7 linked regions of the Homo sapiens genome follow. The protein of the gene in region 2 purifies or fractionates together with the protein of the main gene of each other region. This does not show direct contact. Each region holds a gene or a part of one and is shown on either strand. Other genes may lie near its edges. The genes, in order: HERC5, FAM234B, CKAP5, UBE3C, PDS5B, PEX11B and SLC25A51.

Evidence for each region.
Region 1: the proteins of FAM234B (region 2) and HERC5 purify together in Homo sapiens (affinity purification with mass spectrometry; 2 studies listed by BioGRID and IntAct, with this or other methods). This does not show direct contact.
Region 3: the proteins of FAM234B (region 2) and CKAP5 purify together in Homo sapiens (affinity purification with mass spectrometry; 2 studies listed by BioGRID and IntAct, with this or other methods). This does not show direct contact.
Region 4: the proteins of FAM234B (region 2) and UBE3C purify together in Homo sapiens (affinity purification with mass spectrometry; 2 studies listed by BioGRID and IntAct, with this or other methods). This does not show direct contact.
Region 5: the proteins of FAM234B (region 2) and PDS5B purify together in Homo sapiens (affinity purification with mass spectrometry; 2 studies listed by BioGRID and IntAct, with this or other methods). This does not show direct contact.
Region 6: the proteins of FAM234B (region 2) and PEX11B purify together in Homo sapiens (affinity purification with mass spectrometry; 2 studies listed by BioGRID and IntAct, with this or other methods). This does not show direct contact.
Region 7: the proteins of FAM234B (region 2) and SLC25A51 purify together in Homo sapiens (affinity purification with mass spectrometry; 2 studies listed by BioGRID and IntAct, with this or other methods). This does not show direct contact.

Annotation. Positions count from the first base shown.
Region 1 is NC_000004.12:88,467,119-88,470,618, forward strand, and holds part of HERC5 (E3 ISG15--protein ligase HERC5), read left to right. Parts: coding exon 1-86; intron 87-512; exon of another isoform or gene 513-588; intron 589-1,227; coding exon 1,228-1,304; intron 1,305-2,038; coding exon 2,039-2,142; intron 2,143-3,495; coding exon 3,496-3,500.
Region 2 is NC_000012.12:13,057,881-13,061,380, reverse strand, and holds part of FAM234B (protein FAM234B), read right to left. Parts: intron 2,931-3,500; coding exon 2,832-2,930; intron 1-2,831.
Region 3 is NC_000011.10:46,762,781-46,766,280, reverse strand, and holds part of CKAP5 (cytoskeleton-associated protein 5), read left to right. Parts: intron 1-1,024; coding exon 1,025-1,150; intron 1,151-2,650; coding exon 2,651-2,800; intron 2,801-3,101; coding exon 3,102-3,305; intron 3,306-3,500. UniProt on the Homo sapiens protein: Binds to the plus end of microtubules and regulates microtubule dynamics and microtubule organization. Acts as a processive microtubule polymerase. Promotes cytoplasmic microtubule nucleation and elongation. Plays a major role in organizing spindle poles.
Region 4 is NC_000007.14:157,260,926-157,264,425, forward strand, and holds part of UBE3C (ubiquitin-protein ligase E3C), read left to right. Parts: intron 1-3,500. UniProt on the Homo sapiens protein: E3 ubiquitin-protein ligase that specifically catalyzes 'Lys-29'- and 'Lys-48'-linked polyubiquitin chains.
Region 5 is NC_000013.11:32,767,952-32,771,451, forward strand, and holds part of PDS5B (sister chromatid cohesion protein PDS5 homolog B), read left to right. Parts: intron 1-2,169; coding exon 2,170-2,609; intron 2,610-2,699; coding exon of another isoform or gene 2,700-2,702; coding exon 2,703-2,810; intron 2,811-3,500. UniProt on the Homo sapiens protein: Regulator of sister chromatid cohesion in mitosis which may stabilize cohesin complex association with chromatin. May couple sister chromatid cohesion during mitosis to DNA replication.
Region 6 is NC_000001.11:145,910,850-145,913,283, reverse strand, and holds the end of PEX11B (peroxisomal membrane protein 11B), read left to right. Parts: intron 1-717; coding exon 718-1,123; 3' UTR 1,124-1,934; downstream 1,935-2,434. UniProt on the Homo sapiens protein: Involved in peroxisomal proliferation. May regulate peroxisome division by recruiting the dynamin-related GTPase DNM1L to the peroxisomal membrane. Promotes membrane protrusion and elongation on the peroxisomal surface.
Region 7 is NC_000009.12:37,897,628-37,901,127, reverse strand, and holds part of SLC25A51 (mitochondrial nicotinamide adenine dinucleotide transporter SLC25A51), read left to right. Parts: intron 1-1,177; 5' UTR 1,178-1,299; intron 1,300-3,500. UniProt on the Homo sapiens protein: Mitochondrial membrane carrier protein that mediates the import of NAD(+) into mitochondria. Mitochondrial NAD(+) is required for glycolysis and mitochondrial respiration.

The sequences.
Region 1 (3,500 bases), on a different chromosome or scaffold from region 2:
AGATGGACAACTGGGAAATGGTGGAACACGTGACCAGCTGATGCCGCTTCCAGTGAAAGTATCATCAAGTGAAGAACTCAAACTTGGTAAATTCTATAGGAACATAGGGTTTGGCATAGTATCTTTTTAGAGAAAATGATTTTTCTAACTAGGTAATGTGGCAAAGAAAGCAACATATGACTATGAAGGGAGTTTCTCTAAATACTGGTTTCATTTTTTACTGGTAAACAATTCAAGAGTCAGTCTAATTTACTGAGGCAAAATAATTATTCTATATTACTCCTTCAGATTAGGATTAATGTGAATTTAAATGATAAAATAGACAATGGATTCAGAGGCATATGCAGCTCTCATTCCAGTTTGCAAGAGACTTACTAATTCTTGTAATTAGTTGTTTACTAATTCTTGTAATTGGCTGGTTGCCCTGGTTAAGTTGATCCACAGTCATATAAAACCCTCAGAATAATGAGCAATCAACGTATACCTGGCACTGAACTGTGCTCAGCACTTACTTGTGTTATCTCACCAATCCTTGTAACAGTTCCTGGGAGGTGTATTCTGTCACTCCTCTTTTACTGGAGGATAAAGAGACTTGGAGAGAAAAGGGTTAGCCACTTAATCATGGCCAGTAAGTGGTTTGTCTGGAGTTGAACCCGTGCCCTTTATGACCTCAGAGTCTGAGCTCTGAAACACTCCATTGTAGAAGCACCTTGGAGCATTTCTGTTACTTGTTTCTGAAAGCTTAGTGGTGACCTCAAGTAACAAAATCTACTCATTTCTTGTAGGAAAACGAACAGAGTTATTTCCTTAAGCAGCATGTATTATCTTTGATTCCTTATAACAGTTACATGGGCTTAAAGTACTTATATTCTTTATAGCCAGCAGTCATTGCTTAAATCTTGAAAACATGGTTTTTAGTAATGGGAGTTGAATTAAACTGATAACATTTAGCTAATCAAATATTTGCATTTTATATATAAATATTTGTATTATGTATATTAAACTGATGTCACATGTCCACCTTGTGAATTACCTATGTTTGCCAACTAGACTTTACTCCAAAGGATATGTATTTCAGCTGCTTAATTGGCAGAAAATGTACTAAGTTTTGTCTATTAAGAAGAAAAGATGACTACGTTTAAGAAGAATCTGAAGTTATTTAAATTGAACATGCATGTTTGTGCCAAATGACTTTCTAAAACTCTTACTCTTTGTGCATCCTTTCAGAAAGCCATACCTCAGAAAAGGAGTTAATAATGATTGCTGGAGGGAATCAAAGCATTTTGCTCTGGATAAAGAAAGAGGTAAAAATAGATCTCCAGGTGTTCTATAACCTGGTATTTTAAGCAAAACTAAGGGTTCTAGTATCCCAGTTTGGTGAATTCCAAAATCATCAGTTTACCAGGCTGACTTTTTGGGGGATAGCTGGACATTACTGATCCTTTATTGTCTAAACTACATCAGTATTTTCCCACAAAAATCAGCAGATTTTTCTCTGGTGAATGTCTAATCAGTGTGATTTCCATAGGCTATACTTACCTTTTGGGGGCTACTTGCCAATGATGTTTGGTCAGTATCCTTGCAAACAACAGAGTGACAGATTCTAAAAATGACTTTGCAGGCCAGTACTAAGAAAGACACCAAGGTTCATGGGCTTGCAAATAAAAAGTCCATAACTTCCCTGCCCTACTTCACCAAGTGAAATCGAGTTCCTCACACTTCTGCACACAGCTCTTTCAGGATCTTCCCTTCCCTTCAAGGCTGTCTGATGTTCAGTTTAATTTGATTGTATTTGTATAAAGTGCTGAGTGTTGAGTCCTCAAAGAAATTTACTTTCAGTCTAAGCCCCCTTGGACAAGAAAGTGGCAACCAGGCAAATGATTGATTACTTATTTGTTGAGTATCACTTTGTGATTGTCCCAGGGCTGTATTACACATATTTAAAAGTCAGTTTTACTCTCTAGAGTGTACCTAAAAGTTGGGTGCCTATCTCTGATGTGTCTAAATTATTGTATTTTACTTTCCTGTTTGTTTACAGAATTCATATGTTAATCTGAAGAGGACAATTCCTACTCTGAATGAAGGGACTGTAAAGAGATGGATTGCTGATGTGGAGACTAAACGGTGGCAGAGCACAAAAAGGTACACCCCACAGTCTGACTCTCTGCTTATATATCACTCTCAAGTATCATTTCCCAAACTGGTTCTGCACAGCAATATGAGATTTTGTAGTCAGGGTTTTCCAGAGAAACAAACTCATAGGATATGTGTGTATTTCTGTCTCTATCTTTATCTCTATCATGTCTGTCTGTCCATCTATGTATCTATGGAGGGGAGAGAGAGAGATTATTTTAAGGAATTGGCTTATGAGATTGTAGGGGCTGGCAAGTCCAAAATCTGTAGGGCAGGCCAGCAGGCTGGAGACTTGGGGAGGAGTTGATGTTGCAGCTCAAGTCTGAAGGCAATCTAAAAGCAGAATTTCCTCTTCTTTGGGTGACCTCAGCCTTTTCTCTTAAGGCCTTCAACTGGATGAGGCTCACTCACATTATGGAAGGTCCTTTCTTTTTATTCACTTGTTCAAGTGCTTTACTCAGTTTACCATTTTAAATGTTAATCTCATCTAAAAAAATACTTTCATAGAAACATCCAGAATAATATTTGACCAAATATCTTGGTACCATGGCCTAGCCAAGTTGACATATAAAACTAACCCATCACAACTAGCATGTAAGCGCCATGAGGACAGCTTTCTTTACTGTAGGGCTTCTCCAGGCCTCTGTTTATGTATATTGTGACTCTCTGGCCAGAAAATAGAGTCTATAGTGTTTCCCAGTCCCATTTGATCCTGGAACCATTAGTTTGTGTACCTGTTATTCTTAGCTGAACAATTTGTACCATTCTTCTCTAAACCATAGAACTCCTATAGGTTTACAGAACTCCTACCTATTCTTACAAACATCATCTTTTAGAAATATTTTTAGGTATGGCTTTCTAATTCTGGAAAATGATTGTACAAAGTAGTTGCACAAAATAGTTGCATCATAATTTGCAGAGCATAAATAATTAAGAACTGTACAACTACTTCTAAGATGAAACTGAGCATACTCCTTCCCCCATTTAATTTCTGGTAATTTATTTCTACTTCAGTGGAATAGAAATAAATAGGACTTGCATAGTTGGTGGGGTGGGAGTATTTTGTTTGTTCAAGAAAGTTCTGACCATAAATCAAGCCTTTCCTCTTTATTTGAGGCTTCTCTGAGTATGTATAAACTTTTTTATTTCCCATGTTTGCCACTGAAATTTTGAGATTTACCAAACAGAATGGACTTTTAGAAGCCAAGCCAAGGTAATATGCATACAGATAGGAGACAAATGGAGAGGTTGGAAGGATAGTTATAAGATGTGGTATTTATCATGTCTCATGCTGTAAAGAAAGAGGCTGTATGTATGTATACCATGTGATTTGGTTTAACCAGTGTCTTATTACTAATATAGGGAAA
Region 2 (3,500 bases):
CATGTAAGACAAGAGCTGTGGCCTCCTCTACACTGTCGAATGCATCTCCACTTCTGCACCTTTCCCAACACTACTCTTTACATGTCTGCCACCTCGGCCCCAACTAAATGGTGATATCCTTAAGGAGAAAGACTGTCTCACTAATCTCTGTACCTACAGCAACCGACTGTTTGCCTAATAAGAGACAGGAGCAAAATCAAGAATGCGAAAAAGTAGTTAAGAACAAAAAACCAGGAGGAAAAGATATGCTCGGAAACATGAGACTGATCCAGAACGTGTGCAGCGCGGGGAGCAAAATACCTGAATTCTAATCATCACTAATAAATGCTTCCTGAGAGCAGAAAAATATTTTCTTTTTTGAAAAAATAAACTTGAAGATTACATATAGCAATGATGAGTGGGTCTTGCTAGTCTAGAGTTCTCTGGAATCAATTGATTTGGTCCCAGTCAGGAAAAAATATTTGGGAAGACCTAATACCTAGATCCAAGTACAGCTGGTAAGGGATTAGAGTAGCCATGATCCTTAGTAAATAAGCCTTTATGTCACTTAATTACTACATCAGACTCAGAACTTTCTCCCTTGTCAGTTTCACATTCACTCTCAGGATAGGGACACGTGACTCATTTCATACAGTTCCCACTTTCAGCAACAACTAATATGGATAAGGAAACAAAACTTTTAGAGCTTCCTTCTACCTATTCCTCAGCACGACTAATTGAATATACAACCTAAAAACAAGTGACAAACAATGGCTGGCTGTTTCAGACCCTGTTGCCAGAAGATATATATGACAAACAGAGGTGGTATATGGTAACTTCCAGGCTTCTCAAAGGTGCTAGGATCCCTATCCTGTGTGGTTCTTCCTACTGGAGGACCCTACTCCATCCTACAATGCTCTGACTCGTCTTTTCCCAGATGGTGATGGATTACCCCTTCCTGCTAGACTATGACTTCTCGAGGCCAAAGCCAGGCTCCTCTTGTTCGGCAGTCTGTGTGTAACCATCAGAACTCTAGAGAAGGTGCAGAGTGGCTGCCGCACAGTTAGTATCAACACACAGTTGCTGAATGAAGGAACAAGTGAATAGACAAAAAACTCAATCCCTCTGTGTCCAGTAGCACAAAGCTTTGTGGGTTATGGGCACAGCAGCTTGGCATGAGGGTCAAGGACATGAACTCCAGAGCCAGACTCCTTGGATCCGAATCCCCAGCTCTATCATTTACCAGCAGTAGGACTGGGCAAGTTCTTTAACCTCACAACGTCTCACCTTCCTCATGTGCAAAAGGGGGATAATAATGGGTCTACTTCACAGGACTGTGTGGAAGGATAAATTCCTTCATACGTTATGTGCTGACAATGGTGTATTAACACATAGAAAGCACCATATGTTCGCTATATCCTTATTTGTACAGTCTGTGGCCAAATCAGCCTGGTCCATATTGTGTCCAAACCCATGGCCTTGCCATTATGAGTCTTGGTATGAAGCAAACTACGTAAGATACCAAATGACTAAAAACATCTCTAAATCTAAGTAGATGGGGAAGATTTTTACTTCAGAAGTCACGGGCAGGAAAAGTGTAATCAAGTTTTGATTGCACGGAAATCTACTCCTAGGCTGGAGATGCTCTCTACAGCAGATCTCCACCCAGATTGCTTCCACATCTCATGTGGGCCTCAGAAAGCCACTCCTACTAATGTAAGAGATGTGGTTTAGAATTCTCTAAAACACACCTAGACATGTATTCCAAGGCCTAGACGACTTAAAAGCAGTCACTAGGGCATCCTCAGCATCAAACTAGGTCCCTGCATCAGCTCACAGGCTGCAGTTTGACTCCACTGTAGTGGAGGCTGCAGGATCAACCAAAAGCCTTGTGTACTTAGGCTGAAATCAGAACGCATTTTTTCTTTTTCTACAGCTGACATGTGTAAAAGCTGGGATCCCAGAAACAGCACCCTAAATGAGGGTAAGTTGTGGACGGTTTCTTAAGGAGACTATTCACAAAGATGTGGCCAGCATGTAGAAACACCACAAGTGATAGTGCAGACCCTCAGAACTGTTAGGCTCCCCAACAAAGACACAAGGAGAGGACGCAATTACTGGAATCCAGAAAAGGAAAGTCCTATAGGAGGGCCACCTTGAAACGAGCTGTGACCCAGGGTCAAGGCTGTAGCAGCCATTCTGCAGTGACCCCGGCGGGGAGGGAGCCAGGGGAGTGAATACCTCCCCTCACACTCTTACTCCCCTCCCATTCCTGAGCTGTGCTCCCCATTGAAAGGAGACCAGCAGGCAAGGAAGCCTGTTGATACCATCCATACAGCTCAGCTTCCCCATGCAGAGAGCAGGATGGACAGCAGGTCTACAAGTGTAAACTGAAGGGGGAAAGGAAAACACCCGGCCAAGAGGTATTTGTGTAAAGATGTATAAGTCTATGAACAAAAGTTTTCTTCCAGGGATAGGAGGGTAGCATAAAGTCAATGTTCACTATAATCTAAGAGGCAATGGAAAACCAGGAGAAAACCCAAGGAACCCGAGGACTAACACTGTTCGTTGCAAAGTGTGTGGACAAGTCACTTCCTCTCTGCATCACAGTTTCTTCACTGGCCTGGTCACCACTAAAAATTCCTTCCAGCTCTAACTCCCTCCGATTTCTTAGACTGAGCTTTATTTATATGTGGAAGCTTTCTGATGAGGGTTTTCATGTATGCCAGAACCATGGTAACTTTCTGTTCACTGCAGATCCTTCTCTGCAGTACCACTTGGGACACAGCTCTGATGTTTTCTCCTAGCTGACAGTGCCCCTGTAGCAGCCTTGAAAAAAACACGTCTCTTACCTACTGCACTCCCGTTCCTTGACATCACAAAGGAGAGAAGCACATCACGCAGGCCATCTCCATTCACATCAGCCAATTCCAATGGAGACAGGTCCCCACCTGTTATACACATAAAAAACCAAAAAGGTCCTGAGCAAGTTACCACAAACCAGTTCTCTGTTGCCAGTAGCTCTATAAACACCAGGCAGACTCCAGTTCCTCGACTAGGTATAGTAGACACACCTCTCCCTACTCCCCCTGCTAAGTGCATGGAAAAGCCCTGGACACTGTACATAAAACAAACATAAGACAACTCTAAAAGGCAGAGAGAAGGAAGCAGACCAGCTAGGGACTGCAAGACCCAAGGAATGACAAGGTGATGAGTCCCCTGGGTTTTCTTTTGGCCTCATAATACCCAGATAGGGTGCTGGAAAAGCCAGCAACCCAGAAACACCACAGATACAGACAAAAAAAGCCCCAGAAAAGGCTGCCTTCCCTAGCCAAAAGCCCAGGAAAGGTGCAGTCCAGCAAGACAGGAAAGTTGTAGATAATAACTGCTCTACTCCAACCAAACAGATAAAATTATCAGCCCAGCTCCACCCACTCATATAGCAAAGGCTGAATGTGGAGCCTGGCTCCCACCCTCTCCTGGATGTAACAAGGTACCCCACCACCACCACCACCATCAGG
Region 3 (3,500 bases), on a different chromosome or scaffold from region 2:
ATCTTTTTAAACTTACGAAGCAGTTTCATATAAATGATCTCATATTTGTTTGGTCTGAATGACATTAGTGTTTATACTAGAAAGAAATTGTGGCCAACTAGAAATAGTGGCCATGCTACATTTATAATAATAATGATTCCAGTAATGAAATTTGAATTTTACCTTAAATATGTGTACTATTGTTTACTATTTTCTTTCTATCTGATATGAAGATTTTAAATCTTGGATTATTTTTTAAAACCACTTTAGTGACTTAAATATTTAAAGCATTTCTTGTAACTTTCTCTAGAAGCAAGTTCAAAAGGTCTTCAGTTACACTGTTATGATAAGAGATACATTTAAATATCAATGGAAAGAAACAGAAAAGCTTTCAAACTAAGTGTTTGGAAATGTGTAAATGCCATTCAAGATGTCATTAATGGCTGAGGTGGGTGGATCACTTGAGGTCAGGAGCTCGAGACCAGCCTGGACAACATGGTGAAACCCTGTCTCTACTAAAAATACAAAAATTAGCCAGGGGTGGTGGTGGGCGCCTTTGGTCCCACCTACTGAGGAGGCTGAGTCAGGAGAATCACTTGAACCTAGGAGGTGGAGATTGCAGTGAGCTGAGATCACGCCACTGCACTCCAGCCTGGGCGACAGAGTGAGACTCCGTCTCAAAAAAAAAAAAAAAAAAAAAAAGATGTCATTAATATGGAAAGCTATAAATAGTGTTGAAGATTTCAAGAAAACAAAAACAAAAAGTTTGTGACCTAGACTAATGATCAGTAATAGCAGTTTTTCCAACTACATAACATGCCAGTCCAAGAACTAACCAACAGTTACTTAAGAATATTCTCAGAAAAATTTCTAGAGAACCTGTTCAAAAACATATACAAGATTCTGTGATGCATGTTTTTTTCATGTGAAATATCACGTAGAAAGATATCTCTGTTTTCTACAGTGCCCTTTTACTGGGCAGCAGCATCATATTCTTAAGGAGAAGTGGCCAAGCTAATCAGTATTCCCTGAACCTTGGTTGTAGAGTGCACAAGGGAAGAAGATGCCAAGCAAAACCAGCTTAAAGGAGGATGAAGACAAATCCGGGCCTATTTTTATTGTTGTTCCAAATGGAAAAGAGCAAAGGATGAAAGATGAAAAAGGATTGAAGGTAAGGAAGGATTAAGAATCGTCAGGAGATTTTTGCTTGTATTGTTATTCAAGAATAGTTTTGCTGTCTGAATTCATGTTATTGTTTAATATCTAGGAATTAAGTGTTTCTTTTGCTTATAAATTATATTATTTAGTTTATGGGAGCATTAATTCCTACAAAAGAAACTATAGAATAGAGTTATTGCCTATTTTTCCCTGTAAATAGAAATAAATGATTTAGTAGCTTTTTTGGTATCTTCATTGATTTTTTTTTTTAATTAATTGGATGTATAAGCTTCTTCATTAATCCTTCTTTTTAAGACCTTACAAGGCAGACTTTGTGACTGTATAAATGGCTAGTTCAGTCATTTATGTTACTTTGATTTCATTAGATACTTAAATTTGTTTTCAAAATACATAATCTTTTTTAAAAATTATATGCAGTACAGAAAGTGCAAAGTATAGTAAGAAAAGCATGTCTCTGTTCCAGTATCCCTCCACAGGGAGGATATTAGTCCTCATTTTTTCAATGTATTACTCCAGAAATATTTTATACCTCTACTATCATATGTATATTTTTATATAGCCCTCCTTTTATACAGATGGCATATACAGACATGCCGTACTGTTTGTTCTGTATCTCACTATTTTCTTTTAATGATGTTTGAAATATCTGAAAGATCATTCGTATCTGTGTATATATGTGTGTATCACTGTTTGTATTGGTGCATTGTATGTATGTACCTTTCTTTATCCTTCGCCCACTATGTTGGACATTTAGGTTGTTTCTGGTCTTTCACTATTACAAACACTGCTGCTGTGAATATCTTTGAATGTAGGTCTTTGTACACATATGTGAGTGTATCTATATTAAACTCCTAGAATGATGATATGCATAATTTTGATAGATATTTCAAATTTTCTCTCTATCAAAGATGTGGCAGCAGTGTCCACCATGTTATATAGTTATATGTAGGATTAATTTTTTTTTTTTCTTTAGTAAGAATTGCAAGGCCAGGCACAGTGGCTCATGCCTGTCATCCCAACAATTTGGGAGGCTAAGGCAGGCAAATTGCCTGAGCCCAGGAATTCAAAACCAGCCTGGACAACATATTGAGACTTCATCTCTACGAAAAAAATTTTTTAATTAGCTGGGCATAGTGGTGCATGTCTGTAGTCCCAGCTACTTGGGGGGCTAAGGCAGAAGAATCACTTGAGCCTGGGAGGTTAATGCTACAGTGATCTATGATCATGCCACTGCACTCTGCCATGCCCAGGCAACAGGTGAGACTCTGTCTCAAAAACAAACAATTCCAAAAATTTTTATTCCTAGAAGATTTTCAGAGTTGTTAAGCTTCAAGAAGTATGACACCTTGAAATTTGCATTCATATTTAATTACAAATGAATATTGTTGAATTTTTAAATATTTTATTGTTCCTGCAGCTGCATTATATAAGGCTCTCTACCTCATTTCAGTTGAACACCCTGTAGCCCCTTTTCACCGTTTGTTTTTTCCAGGTGCTAAAGTGGAATTTTACTACCCCACGGGATGAATACATTGAGCAACTAAAGACTCAAATGTCTAGCTGTGTGGCTAAATGGTTACAAGATGAGATGTTTCACTCAGACTTTCAGCATCATAACAAAGCCCTTGCTGTTATGGTTGATGTAAGTCTGCAATAGATAAATATACATGTATTTCAGACATGTAAAAATACCGAGCCCTATGAAATAATCTGAAGTTTGCATGACTTGGAAGTAGAATATACTATGTTCTCTATTTTTAGAGCTGTCTTGTTATTTGGTAGAATAAATGAATGTGTGTGTATATTTTTTAGGTCTTAATTGAAGGCTTAAAAATCTGTCATTTTCTTTTTGGGCTCCAATAAAATTTAAAAGACACTTGCCTAGTAGAATTAAGATTTTGATTATTCTTATTTGTGGGAGTTTTGTTTTGTTTTATTTTAAGCACTTGGAGAGTGAAAAAGAAGGAGTTATTGGTTGCCTGGATCTTATCTTAAAGTGGCTTACCCTGAGGTTTTTTGACACCAATACAAGCGTCCTGATGAAAGCACTAGAATATTTAAAATTGCTCTTCACCTTGCTAAGTGAAGAAGAATATCATCTTACTGAGAATGAAGCATCTTCCTTCATCCCCTATCTTGTCGTCAAGGTAATGTGGTGTTCTCTCTCTGGGAGACTGCTTAAGTTCCCAGCTGACCTCAGTTTCTGTACTTTTATTTCCTCTCCCTTTTTTACTGATTATATCACGGTACCTTCCCTACTTATCCCTATTTCCCTATTCTTTCAAAACATAGTAATGCATGGGAGAATCATTGCTACTTAGGAAATGCCTCACTTAATCATT
Region 4 (3,500 bases), on a different chromosome or scaffold from region 2:
GTTCGTGCATGGCCACTTGTGCTGCGTGAGCGTCGTAGGTTTAGGGGAACAGAAGTAGAGGGATTTACATGAGCTTTTAAAATCCCAAATAGACTGGCCAGGTGCGGTGGCTCACACCTGTAATCCCAGCACTTTGGGAGGCCAAGGCGGGTGGATCCCCTGAGGCCAGGAGTTCAAGACGAACCTGACCAACATGATGAAACCCCGCCTCTACTAAATACAAAAAAAAAATCAGCCGGGCATGGTGGTGCATGCCTGTAGTCCCAGCTACTTGGGAGGCTGAGGCAGGAGAATGGCTTGAACCCGGAAGGTGGAGGTTGCAGTGAACCAAGATTGCACCATTGCACTCCAGCCTGGGCAACAAGAGCAAAACTCTGTCTGAAAAAAAAAAAAAAAAAAAAAAAAAAAAAAAAATCCCAAATAGACTAAAAGGGAAAATCCTACCCCAGTCAAGACCCCGCACAATCATAATTGAGTTATACCGTGGAAAACACTTTGAGCATCCATGAGACGGTCTTACTGTTTTTTTTATTTTTCTCAATGTTCTAACATATGTGAAATTTAATTGATTTTTCCATGATAAGTGTTTTTGAAGTTGTTATATGTTAGACATCCAGTTTGGAAAAATCATCTTAATATTTAGGCTTTCCGGTTAGCTTAGTATGCCTGGATTTGCCAGGGCTGCAGAATTAATGTAGACTTAAAGGAAGAGAATGTCTTTCAGTTGAAGTACTATAAATAGCAAAGGCAGGCAGGCATAATTTTAAAGTTATGAAACTCCTTAGTGCCAGATTATTGGAGAAGAATAACATCTGCTAAAGCTAATTAAAGTTTAATATGTTTAATAAATGTGATTGTTACAGACAAAAAATCATTAAAGTGCTGTAGAAAATTGTTAAGTTACCATCAGGCCACATAATAAATTAATGATTTTTCTCACTCTGAATTAATGCAAATTCCCGTTGTACTGTATTTAATTATGCACAAAATGGTGCCCTTGACTCAGATTTCAGTGAAGAACTTCATTTTTTTACTTTTAAGTCTCCAAGTAGGAAATTCAATTAGCGTTATGAAAGAAACACTAAAATGTGGCATTTAATTGCAAAATATATTTTAAGCTTTTCATTTATCCAGTGACTTTGCCAGCAGTCACTGACCCCTTCATTCAGAGATCCTTTTCTGTTTCAAAAATGCAATGCTTCCTTTTTAGTATATTCAAGCATTTGTGAAAATTATTGCCCTCATGTACTCAGAATGCTGAATAATAAGTGTAATAAATGTTATTTCTGGTTCTCCTTTGGTTCTCATTCTAACATTTTTATGAGAGATTTAAAGGAGCAAATAAACTATAATTAGAAAAAAAAAGACAATGGATTTTAGCACATATTATATGCCACATATATATTTTTTAATGAAGTTTACATTTAACAGTAAAGAGACCTACAAAGATCAGTAATAAGAATCATGTAAGTCTCTTCATAGGCTTTTTTTTTTTTTTTTTTTTTTTTTTTGAGATAGAGTTTCGCTCCTGTTGCCCAGGCTGGAGTACAATGGCCCATCTCAGCTCGCTGCAACCTCTGCCTCCTGGGTTCAAGTGATTCTCCTGCCGCAGCCTCCCGAGTAGGTGGGATTACAGGCACCTACCACCACCCCCAGCTAATTTTTTTGCATTTTTAGTAGAGGCAGGATTTCACCATGTTGGCCAGGCTGGTCTCGAACTCCTGACCTCCGGTGATCCACCCACCTCAGCCTCCCAAAGTGCTGGGATTACAGGCATGAGCCACCGCGCCCATCCTCTTCATAGCATTTTGTGGGCTGTGCTCTTACTAGTTTTACCCTTAACATAAATTATATGCTAAACTCAACATATAATTGAAACAAAATCCAACTGAAATGTGGGTGTGGCCAGTTGGGTGCCTGTTGTGCTTTGTGACAGCTTCAGTGCTTCCAAAGGTTCCTGCAGAATGGGACATTGCTCTAGTTTGATTCACATTTGACTACAATGGTTAGAAGGTAATTACCTTTTCTATTTTTTAAATTTTTTTGAACATAAACTCAAGATTGTATTGTCTTCATAATAAAACAAAAGATGACACTTAGAATTGGATGTCTTGGCCCTTCCTCCTCTTCTGTCCTCCCAGTTCAGAATGCTCACATCTCTTTATATCCAGCATCCTCTTACATCTGCACCTATGCTCAACGCACTCAAGCCTCAGCACAAGCTTCTTCGTAGTTCTAGCCTTTTCCCGGAAAATCAGCTTAGTCTGCCCACCGTAGCCGCTATGCTTCGTGTCCTAACACCACCTTCCCCGGGCACCTGTCCTAACGCCACCTTCCCAGGCACCTGTCGTAACGCCACCTTCCCCGGGCGCCTGTCCTAACGCCACCTTCCCGGGCATACAGAGAATCCGTGCCCTTTTGTGCCGTGTCGCTTTGTGGGCTTGCCACACTTACAGAAAGTCGAACGGGGGCCGGGTGTGGTGGCTCACGCACTTTGGGAGGCTGAGGCGGGCGGATCACCTGAGTTCAGGAGTTCTCGACCAGCCTGGCCAACATGGCGAAACCCCATCTCTACTAAAAATACAAAAATTAGCTAGGTGTGATGATGGGCACATATAGTCCCAGCTACTCGGGAGGTTGAGGCAAGAGAATTGCTTGAACCTGGGAGGCAGAGGTTGCAGTGAGCCGAGATTGTGCCATTGTACACCAGCCTTGTTGAGAGAGCAAGACGCCAACTCAAAAAAAAAAAAAAAAGTCTAGCAAGTATTAGGAACATTCACTTTGTGGGAGCGCTGTTGGCACCGAAAGCACTTTTTTTATATTGGATTTTTTTTTTTTTTTTTTACCTTTCAGTAAAAGTAATGTTTTCATTATAGAAAATTGGAAATTGTGATCAAGTATAAGAAACCTATATTTCCTCCCATTCTAACCATTATTTTTTTATGTTTCCTTCCTTTAATTAGTATGTGTTTTATCTACCTACATGAGTGTGTGTTAATGTAGATATGCATAATTTTTTCTGTTTTTGGTAGAGGTAGGGTCTTGCTCTGTTGCCCAGGCTGTCAGAAACTCCTGGCCTTGAGTGATCTCCCACACCAGCCTCCCAAAGCACTGGTACTACAGGTGTGAGCCAACATGCTCGGCCTGTTACACACACACACACCTGGTATTACAGGTGTGAGCCAACATGCTCAGCCTGTTACGTGCACACACACACACCTGGTATTACAGGTGTGAGCCAACATGTTCGGCCTGTTAAGCACAGAGACACACACCTGGTATTACAGGGGTGCGCCAACATGCTCGGCCTGTTACACACACACACACACACACCTGGTACTACAGGTGTAAGCCAACATGCTTGGCCTGTTACACACACACACACACACACACCTGGTATTACAGGTGTGAGCCAACATGCTCGGCCTGTTACACACACACACCTGGTACTACAGGTGTGAGTCAACATGCTCGGCCTGTTACACACACACACACACACC
Region 5 (3,500 bases), on a different chromosome or scaffold from region 2:
TTATTCTTGTTCAAAACATATAAAATAAAGGAAGCACTACAAATCATTGATTCTGAAATGGTTGGATGTGTCTTTGGGAGTGGAAAATCCAGTTTAGAATCTCATCTCACATTCTGTTCTAAAACAATACACAATAATGTCTTAGTCAGCTCAAGCTGCCATTATAAAATACCAAATACCACAGACTGGGTAGCTTAAACAACAGAACTATATTTTCTTACAGTTCTGGAGGCTGGAAGTACAAGATCAAGGTGCCAGCAGATTTGGTTCCTGATGAGGGCTGTCTTCCTGGGTTACAGATGCCACCTTCTCCTGTGTCCTCACATGAGAGGTGTGGGGTGGGAGGAAGAAGAAAGGCACCCAAGCTCACTGATGTTTCCTCTTATAAGGACACTAATCTCATCATGAGGGTGCCACCTCATGACCTCATCTCAACGAAATACCTCCCAAAGGCCCCATCTCCAAATACTGTCACATTGGGATTAGAGCTTGAACATACAATTTTTTTCTTTGGTGGTGGGGGCCACAATTCAGTCCAAAGCAAGTAAGAAATAACACTTAAAGGACAGGTGCAATGACACCTGTAATCCCAGCACTTTGGGAGGCCGAGGCAGGCGGATCACCTGAGTTTAGGAGTTTGAAACCAGCCTGGCCAACACGGCAAAACCCCATCTCTGCTAAAAATACAAAAATTAGCCACGCATGGTGGCACATGCCTCTAGTCCCAGCTACTCGGGAGGCTGAGGCAAGAGAATCGCTTGAACCCGGGAGGCAGAGGTTGCAGTGAGCCAAGATTGACCCACTGCACTCCAGCCTGGGTGACAGAGCGAGACTCTGTCTCAAAAAAAAAAAAAAGAAAAAAAAAAAAAGCTGGGTGCAGTGGCTCATGCCTGTAATCCCAGCACTTTGGGAGGCCGAGGCGGGCGGATCACAAGGTCAGGAGATTGAGACCATCCTGGCTAACACGGTGAAACCCCGTCTCTACTAAAAAAATACAAAAAAAAAAAAAAAAAAAAAAATTAGCCAGGCGTGGTTGCAGACACCTGTAGTCCCAGCTACTCGGGAGAAGGCTGAGACAGGAGAATGGCGTGAACCTGGGAGGCGGAGCTTGCAGTGAGCAGAGATGGTGCCACTGCACTCCAGCCTGGGTGACAGAGTGAGACTCCATCTCAAAAATAATAAAAGATAATATTAATAATAAAGAAATAACACTTAAAAATAAGCATAGAGGCATACACAAAAGCATAGAGGAATATAGAGAAAACCCACTAACACCGCAGTAGTCAAAGTTGACAAAGGACACAATACGAAGGATGTAATTAGGCAGTTCACATACAGGAAGCTCAATTTAAAGTTAGAAAAAGTTACAGATAATTCGATAGTTTTTGTTGTTTTCAGTGATTTTTGAAAATATAAATTGCGCAGACTTTTGGAAATTAACTTTGTATTATAAGTGTTCATACATACAATTTATTCTTGGGTCTTTGGAGAATTTCTTCAGCCTTCACGCTGGTTCACATATAGATTCTCTGAATATAGACTAGGATTTTATTTTAAATGTGAAAGCCACTGGTTTTTTGTTGTTTCTGTTGTTAATCAGTTAGTTATACCTAGAAAGAAGCAGTATTTCTAATTCAGAAGTGTTTCCAAAATTTATAATAAATGATGAATATGTTTACCTTTTGTATCTTGCAACCTCCATTTGTAAAATAATAGTTCTTTTATGATGTTGTAAGCATGTCATATAGTTAATATTTTATGTCTTACGCACTATGTGGTAAAATTAGAATTACTTAAATTGACTATCCAAACAGATACTTTAGTATAGTTGTCATTTAGGACCAAGCACTGAATTTATAATGCTCTTTTTAATGAGATAGCTCTTCACTAAAATTTATAATTTAGTAAGATACTGATCTTGAGAGGTTTCCTTTTAAGACACTCTAGCTGAAAAGTAAGAGTGCAAATGTACCCTTTTATCCCAGATAAGTTTTTAAAATTAAAAACTATAATAAAAGCAAATAAATACAGTTCTGGTGTATTTAAGAGCTGTATATTTTAGGTACATATCTAGGACAACATTAGATAACAGATTTTTTTGTTTCATTCCTCAAAATATGTATACTCACAATTTCATAACCATAAATTGTGATTTTTTTTTTCCCCTAGTCTGAATTGGAGAAGCCTAGAGGCAGGAAAAAAACGCCCGTCACAGAACAGGAGGAGAAATTAGGTATGGATGACTTGACTAAGTTGGTACAGGAACAGAAACCTAAAGGCAGTCAGCGAAGTCGGAAAAGAGGCCATACGGCTTCAGAATCTGATGAACAGCAGTGGCCTGAGGAAAAGAGGCTCAAAGAAGATATATTAGAAAATGAAGATGAACAGAATAGTCCGCCAAAAAAGGGTAAAAGAGGCCGACCACCAAAACCTCTTGGTGGAGGTACACCAAAAGAAGAGCCAACAATGAAAACTTCTAAAAAAGGAAGCAAAAAAAAATCTGGACCTCCAGCACCAGAGGAGGAGGAAGAAGAAGAAAGACAAAGTGGAAATACGGAACAGAAGTCCAAAAGCAAACAGCACCGAGTGTCAAGGAGAGCACAGCAGAGGTAAGCATGTGTAACTCTAAACTGCATCTGTTTCGTTACTATATTATAAATCATAATTTGATGCTATCCACATTTGGGTCTTCCCCAAAGCAGAGCAGAATCTCCTGAATCTAGTGCAATTGAATCCACACAGTCCACACCACAGAAAGGACGAGGAAGACCATCAAAAACGCCATCACCATCACAACCAAAAAAAAATGTGTAAGTTGTAAATATTACATTTCAAACCAATTTCAAATTATTTTGCAAAAGTTCCTAAATTTGTAAACATACATATTGCTGTATTTAAATTCCATATATTTAGCCCCATTACACTAGGTAAGATAAAATTTTTATAAACTTACCTTAGTGATTGATATCTCAATAAACTATCTTGTACATTTTTACAGGTGCAGGCAAATCTTCATAAATGAATACCAAATAGTATATTATTTCCTATACAGACTTTATGATATCTAAAGAAATCATAAGGTATTTTTAAATAATCACCACACATTGACCAGGTTGCCTTGTCATTCCACACTACAATTTTTTTTTTAAATGTTTCTCATTAGCACCTTTTCCTTTAAAAAAAGGAAAATAGGTCTTATGCTTCTGCTTTTATTCTTTGAACTTGTAGTAGGAAAGTAACAGGTACCATTTTTTAAAAATTATATCCATAGAAATTAACACATGTTGGTCTCAAGTGTTTGATATCTTGATTTTGTTTGTTTTCTAACCCAGTTCATTTATCTACATCAACATGTATATAGTTTTAGATGTTCACACAAACACATTTATAAGAGAGGTACAGTAAGAATCTGTACCTCAAATTTTAGTGTCACCAGAGTATCACTGCTGTAATTTGCAGATCTGACAGTGTTTTTTCTCCTTAGTTATGTGAGTGGAAAT
Region 6 (2,434 bases), on a different chromosome or scaffold from region 2:
CAGATTTCAAATATACAATACAGTATTGTTAACTATAGTCACAATGTAGTACATTAGATCTCCAGAACTTACTCATCTTGCATAACTGAAACTTATACGCTTTGACCAGTATCTTCCCATTTCCCTCACTCCCCAACCCCTGGCAACCCCCATTCTATTCTGTGCCCCTATGAGTTAGCCTTTTTTTTTTTTTTTTGAGACAGAGTCTTGCTTTGTTGCCCAGGCCGGAGTGCAGTGGTGAGATCTCGGCTCACTGCAACCTCTGCTTCCTGGGTTCAAGCAATTCTCATGCCTCAGCCTCCCAAGTAGCTGGGATTACAGGTGCTGGCCACCACAACTGGCCAATTTTTGTATTTTTAGTAGGGACGGGGTTTCACCATGTTGGCCAGGCTGGTCTTAAACTCCTGACCTCAGGTGATCCACCTGCCTTGGCCTCCCAAAGTGCTGGGATTACAGGCATGAGCCACCACGCCCGGCCTTATTTTAGCTTCCACCTATAAGTGAGATTATGCAGTATTTGTCTTTCTGTGTCTGGCTTATTTTGCTTAGCATAGTGTCCTCGATGGAGGACATTTCTAATAGGGGTAATAGCATTCACTTTACTTCTGATCTAATGTGTAATCTCTTTGCTACAGGAAAAGAAAATGTTAAAATGTGATGTTGGATATGTTAAGTAGGTATACATGCCCTTACTGACCCTTTTGCTCTGTGTATCAGGTACTATTTGTTTTCCCTCATCATGAATTTGAGCCGTGATGCTTATGAGATTCGCCTACTGATGGAGCAAGAGTCTTCTGCTTGTAGCCGGCGACTGAAAGGTTCTGGAGGAGGAGTCCCAGGAGGAAGTGAAACTGGGGGACTTGGGGGACCAGGGACTCCAGGAGGAGGTCTGCCCCAACTGGCTCTGAAACTTCGGCTGCAAGTCCTGCTCCTGGCTCGAGTCCTTAGAGGTCATCCCCCACTTCTGCTAGACGTGGTCAGAAATGCCTGTGATCTCTTCATTCCTCTGGACAAACTAGGCCTCTGGCGCTGTGGCCCTGGGATTGTGGGGCTTTGTGGCCTCGTGTCCTCCATCCTGTCTATTCTCACCCTAATCTATCCCTGGCTACGACTCAAGCCCTGACCTTCCGGTACAGGATAAGGAGGGGACCTGAATTGGTGAGATGGAATCTTAGATCGTCCCCCATGTGCCAGCCTCATTCGAATTCTACTCTTTGGTTAAAGTTAGAAATTCAGAGATTTAGGGGTGGAGGAAGAGCTTTGGGGAAGATGAGGTAAGGAAAGATGACTCGTGAAGTTAATAGGATGTCTCTAATTTCTAGATGTGCCTGAGCTTCTGTTCTTTTCCTCTTTCTTTGTGTCTCTCTTGAATATATTTACTTTGTGTCTCTTAACTCTGTTTAAGGTTCTGTGTCTATGCATCTCTCTCTTTCTTTTTTCAACCTTCTCATTCTCCTATCCAGGGATTTAATCAGCAGAATTACTTTTTGATAGGGGAGGTATAAGGTTTGGCCTGTAAGGTTCTAACTGCCTTCTTTTTTCTCACAGAGGTGGCTTATGGCAGATTTTTCCTCCTTCAAACTCCAAACATAATTTTTAAGACTATGTGCCAGTGGACTCTTCCCTTATATCTCTGCACCACAAGTTGTTGGATGTTTCCTCTTCCTCCCTTATGTCTACCTCACCAACCTCGCTCATCATTTGGCCCTTATCCTTCCTTGTACACCTACCTTCAGATTTCTGCTTACACTTTGATTTCAGAGCTTTATTCCCCAGTCTGTTCTTACTCCTTTGTCGCTTATCCAGAATGATGCTATGTGTAGCATCTTGCTGTAAATCCTGTACAATGATTCTGTGTAAATAGCTGTGGCCTATGCCAATAATGAAGAGCAAGCCTTTCAGGTAAGCAAATTAAAGTTCAGTTTGCTCATCGACATTTGGTCTGGTCCCTCATTTTTTGGTAATTTGAGGCCCCTATTCCTGTCACTGTGGTTTGGGTTTTTCTCGGGATTAGCCACTAACATCACCCACATTATTTTTCTTGAGCACCTACAGTATGTAAAGCAACATACTTAGTGGGCATCCAAAAATCTAAGAAGCTCCACACTCCCAACTTTAAGAAGTTTATAACCTAGCTGAGGAGTTGGGGTGGCAGAGGAGTGGTCTAATACTAAAGTTATTGTCCTGGCTCCACAAAGCACATCTCATACCAGTTCAGATATAATCCCTCTAAGAAGCAGAATGCCATATGACAGCATAGGCTAAGAGCCAAGGACAGAACCAAGTGGAGTGGGGCTGGTAAGGATTTGGAGCTGTGTCTTCACAAGTTGAGACTCCCCTGGGTGGGTAGGGAAATGATACCACTGCTATCAGCTCTTTCATTTTCCATATTCCAGGTTGAGATAAATAAGGTTAGGAAGTGAATCTATCGGCC
Region 7 (3,500 bases), on a different chromosome or scaffold from region 2:
TGGGAGGCCAAGGCTGGCAGATGATGTGAGCCCAAGGAGTTTGAGACCAGCCTGGGCAACGTAGAGAAACCCTGTCTCTACAAAACATACAAAAATTAGCTGGGCTTGGTGGTGCGGGCCTGTGGTCCCAGGTACTCAGATGGCTGAGGTGGAAGGATTGCTTGAGCCCAGGAGGTCAAGGCTGCAGTAAGTGCAGTGAACTGCGAGGTAGCCACTGCATTCAGCCCAGGTGACAGAGCAAAACTCTGTCTCAAAAAAACAAAACAAAACTGAGAAATAGTAAGATTGGTAATTCACAAGCTGCTGCTTTGCTAGGAGTGGTAAGGTTATAAATTAGATAAACTGATAACCCTGCTCAAGAAAAAAGGGAACATAAGTACACAGGTTAGAAGTAATTTTTTAAAACAGCAAGTGTTGGATGGGTGCAGTGGCTTGTAAATCCCAGCACTTTGGGAGGCCAAGGCAGGAGTTCAAGACCAGCCTGGGCAACATAGCAAGGCCCCCTCTCTGCTAAAAAAATGTTTTTTAAAAGTTAGCCAAGCATGGTGGCATGCGCCTGTGGTCCTAGCTACTCAGGAGACTGAGGCCCCAGGGGTCCAGGCTGCAGTGAGCCATGATCGTACCACCGTACTCCAGTCTGGGTGACAGAACAAGACCCTGTCATTTTTTTTTTTTTTTCTGGATAGAGTCTTGCTGTGTCGCCCAGGCTGGAGTGCAGTGCTGTGATCTTGGTTTACTGCAACCTCTGCCTCCCGGGTTCAAGCAATTCTCCTGCCTCAGCCTCCCAGGTAGCTGGGACTACAGGTGCGTGCCACGATGCCTGGCTAAATTTTGGATTTTTCGTAGAGATGGGGTTTCACCGTGTTAGCCAGGATGGTCTCGATTTCCTGACCTCATTCATGATTCGCCTGCCTTGGCCTCCCAAAGTGATGGGATTACAGGCGTGAGCCACCACACCTGGCCAAGATCCTGTCTTTAAAAATAAAAATAGGCTGGGAGCAGTGGCTCATGCCTGTCATCCCAACACTTTGGGAGGCCAGGGTGGGAGGAACACTTGAGCCCAGGAGTTTGAGACCACCGTTGACAACATAGTGAGACCCTGTCTCTACAAAAAAAAAAAAAAAAAAAAAAAAAAAAAAGGCTATATAAATTAAACCAGAATTTTTTTTTTTTTAAGGAAATCCAGTTATCAAAATTGACTCAAGAAGAGAGAACCTAACAGAACAATAACAATGGAAGAAATTGGGAACATTATCACAAAGCTATCATCCTGCCAAACTCCAGGCTCAGATGTCACAGGTGAATGCAATTAAACTTCAAGGAACACATCATTTTGATAAGATTTAAATTGTTCTACAGTATGATGGGGGTGGGGGGGCGGGGAATCACATATTCTTTTTACAAAGCCAGTGGAACATTGACACTGGCACTTGATGTGAAGATAGTATTAAAACTGAAAACTTATCTGAGTGCCAAGGCTTATGCCCATAATCCCAACACTTTGGGAGGCTGAGGCAGGAGGATTGCTTGAGCCAAGGAGCTTCAGACCAGCCTGGGCAACACAGAGTGACCCTGTCTCTACAAAAAAGTGAAAAATTAGCCAGGCATGGTGGCGCACGTGTGTGGTCCCAGCTGGGAGAATTGCTTAAGTCTAGGAGCTTGAGGCTGCAGTGAGCCATGATTGTACCACTGCACTCCAGCCTGGGTGACAGAGTGAGACCCTGTCTTGTAAAAGAAGAAAAAAAAAATGACAACATGATCTGTTATGAACAGTAATATGAAATTTTAAAATATTAGTAAATGGAAGTTAGCAGTATGATGAAAGAATATTTCACCACGGCCAAGTAGCATTTATCCACATATTGCAAGAGTGAGTAATCACCAAGAAATATGCTAACATAATACACCAAATGAATAAGTCAGAAAAGATAGAAAAGAATAATAAAATAGCTTGCCCTTGTTGAGTTCCTACTGTACACTAGACTGCTGTCCTGGGCACTTTACATGTTGTTAGCTCAGTTAATTGAGCTAGTCTATGAGGTAGTTAATAGCCACGTTTTATAAAGAGAATAAGCTATAGAGTGACTTGTCAAAGGTCACACAGTACATGTGTGGTGGAGCTAGGATTTAAGTAGGTAATTAGTAGGTTCCAGAGGCTGTACTCTTAAATATTACACTGGCTGTCTCCAGTGTTTGTATGATCATCTCAGGAGCTTTCTAAAAGCATTTGACCAAAGTTTAAGATAGACTCTTGAGTTATTGGCGGTGGGAAGGTGTGGAGGTGATTGAACTTCAGTACAACAATAATAAATGTATATTTCCTTCCCATGTTTGAAAATTCTCTCAGTTTGACTTATCAGTTGACTAGAAAAATGAAATTCATTTTTATTTTATTTATTTATTTATTTTTGAGACAGAGTCTTGCTGTGTCGCCCAGGCTGCAGTGCAGTGGTACAATCTTGGCTCACTGCAACCTTGCCTCCTGGGTTCCGGCAATTCTCCTGCCTCAGCCTCCCAAGTAGCTGAGATGACAGGTGCATGCCACCATGCCCGGCTAATTTTTTTTTTTTTTGAGATGGAGTTTCACTCTTGTTGCCCAGGCTGGAGTGCAATGGCATAATCTCAACTCACTGCAACCTCCGCCTCCGAGGTTCAAGCAATTCTCCTGCCTCAGCCTCCCGAATAGCTAGGATTACAGGCATGCGCCACCACGCCTGGCTAATTTTGTATTTTTAGTAGAGACAGGATTTCTCCATGTTGGTCAGGCTGGTCTTGAACTCCTGACCTCAGGTGATCCACCCGTCTCAGCCTCCCAAAGTGCTGGGATTACAGGCGTGAGCCACCGCACCCGGCCACCCCCGGCTAATTTTTGTATTTTTAGTACAGATAGGGTTTTGCCATGTTGGCCAGGTTGGTCTTGAACTTCTGACCTCAAGTGATCTGCCTGCTTCGGCCTCCCAGAGTGCTGGGATTACAGGTGTAAACTACTGCTCCTGGCCTGGAATCCATTTTTAATGGGAAGCACAATTTCATAGTTAATAGTTGGGGGCAGGAGCTTAAGTTATAATTGCAGCTCCACTAATTCTTAGAATGAATATAGATTGAAGTCTTGGGGTTTTTGGCATGATTTGTGAGATGAAATTATGTGATAGCAGAAGGAAGGCCTCCTGCACTTCATGTTTACAGTAGAGTCCTACAGATGGGCAGGGGTAGATGATAAATAGGGAGGAGGGATACTTGAGTGGAATAAATCATATATGACTCAGCTGATCAGTGAACGTTTCTGTGTCTTGATGATTTGTTTCCCTGTGTAAACTTGAAAACTGCTAGGACCTGGATTATGAACACTCAGATGACAAGAACTTCCTGTTTAAAACCGAAAGCCAACTTAATGATAATCCCTAGGAGAGTTCCCACAGGTGTCAAGAAAAATATAAGAACTATAATTATATATATATGTAATTATATATAGGGATTATAATTATAATTTATTATAATCC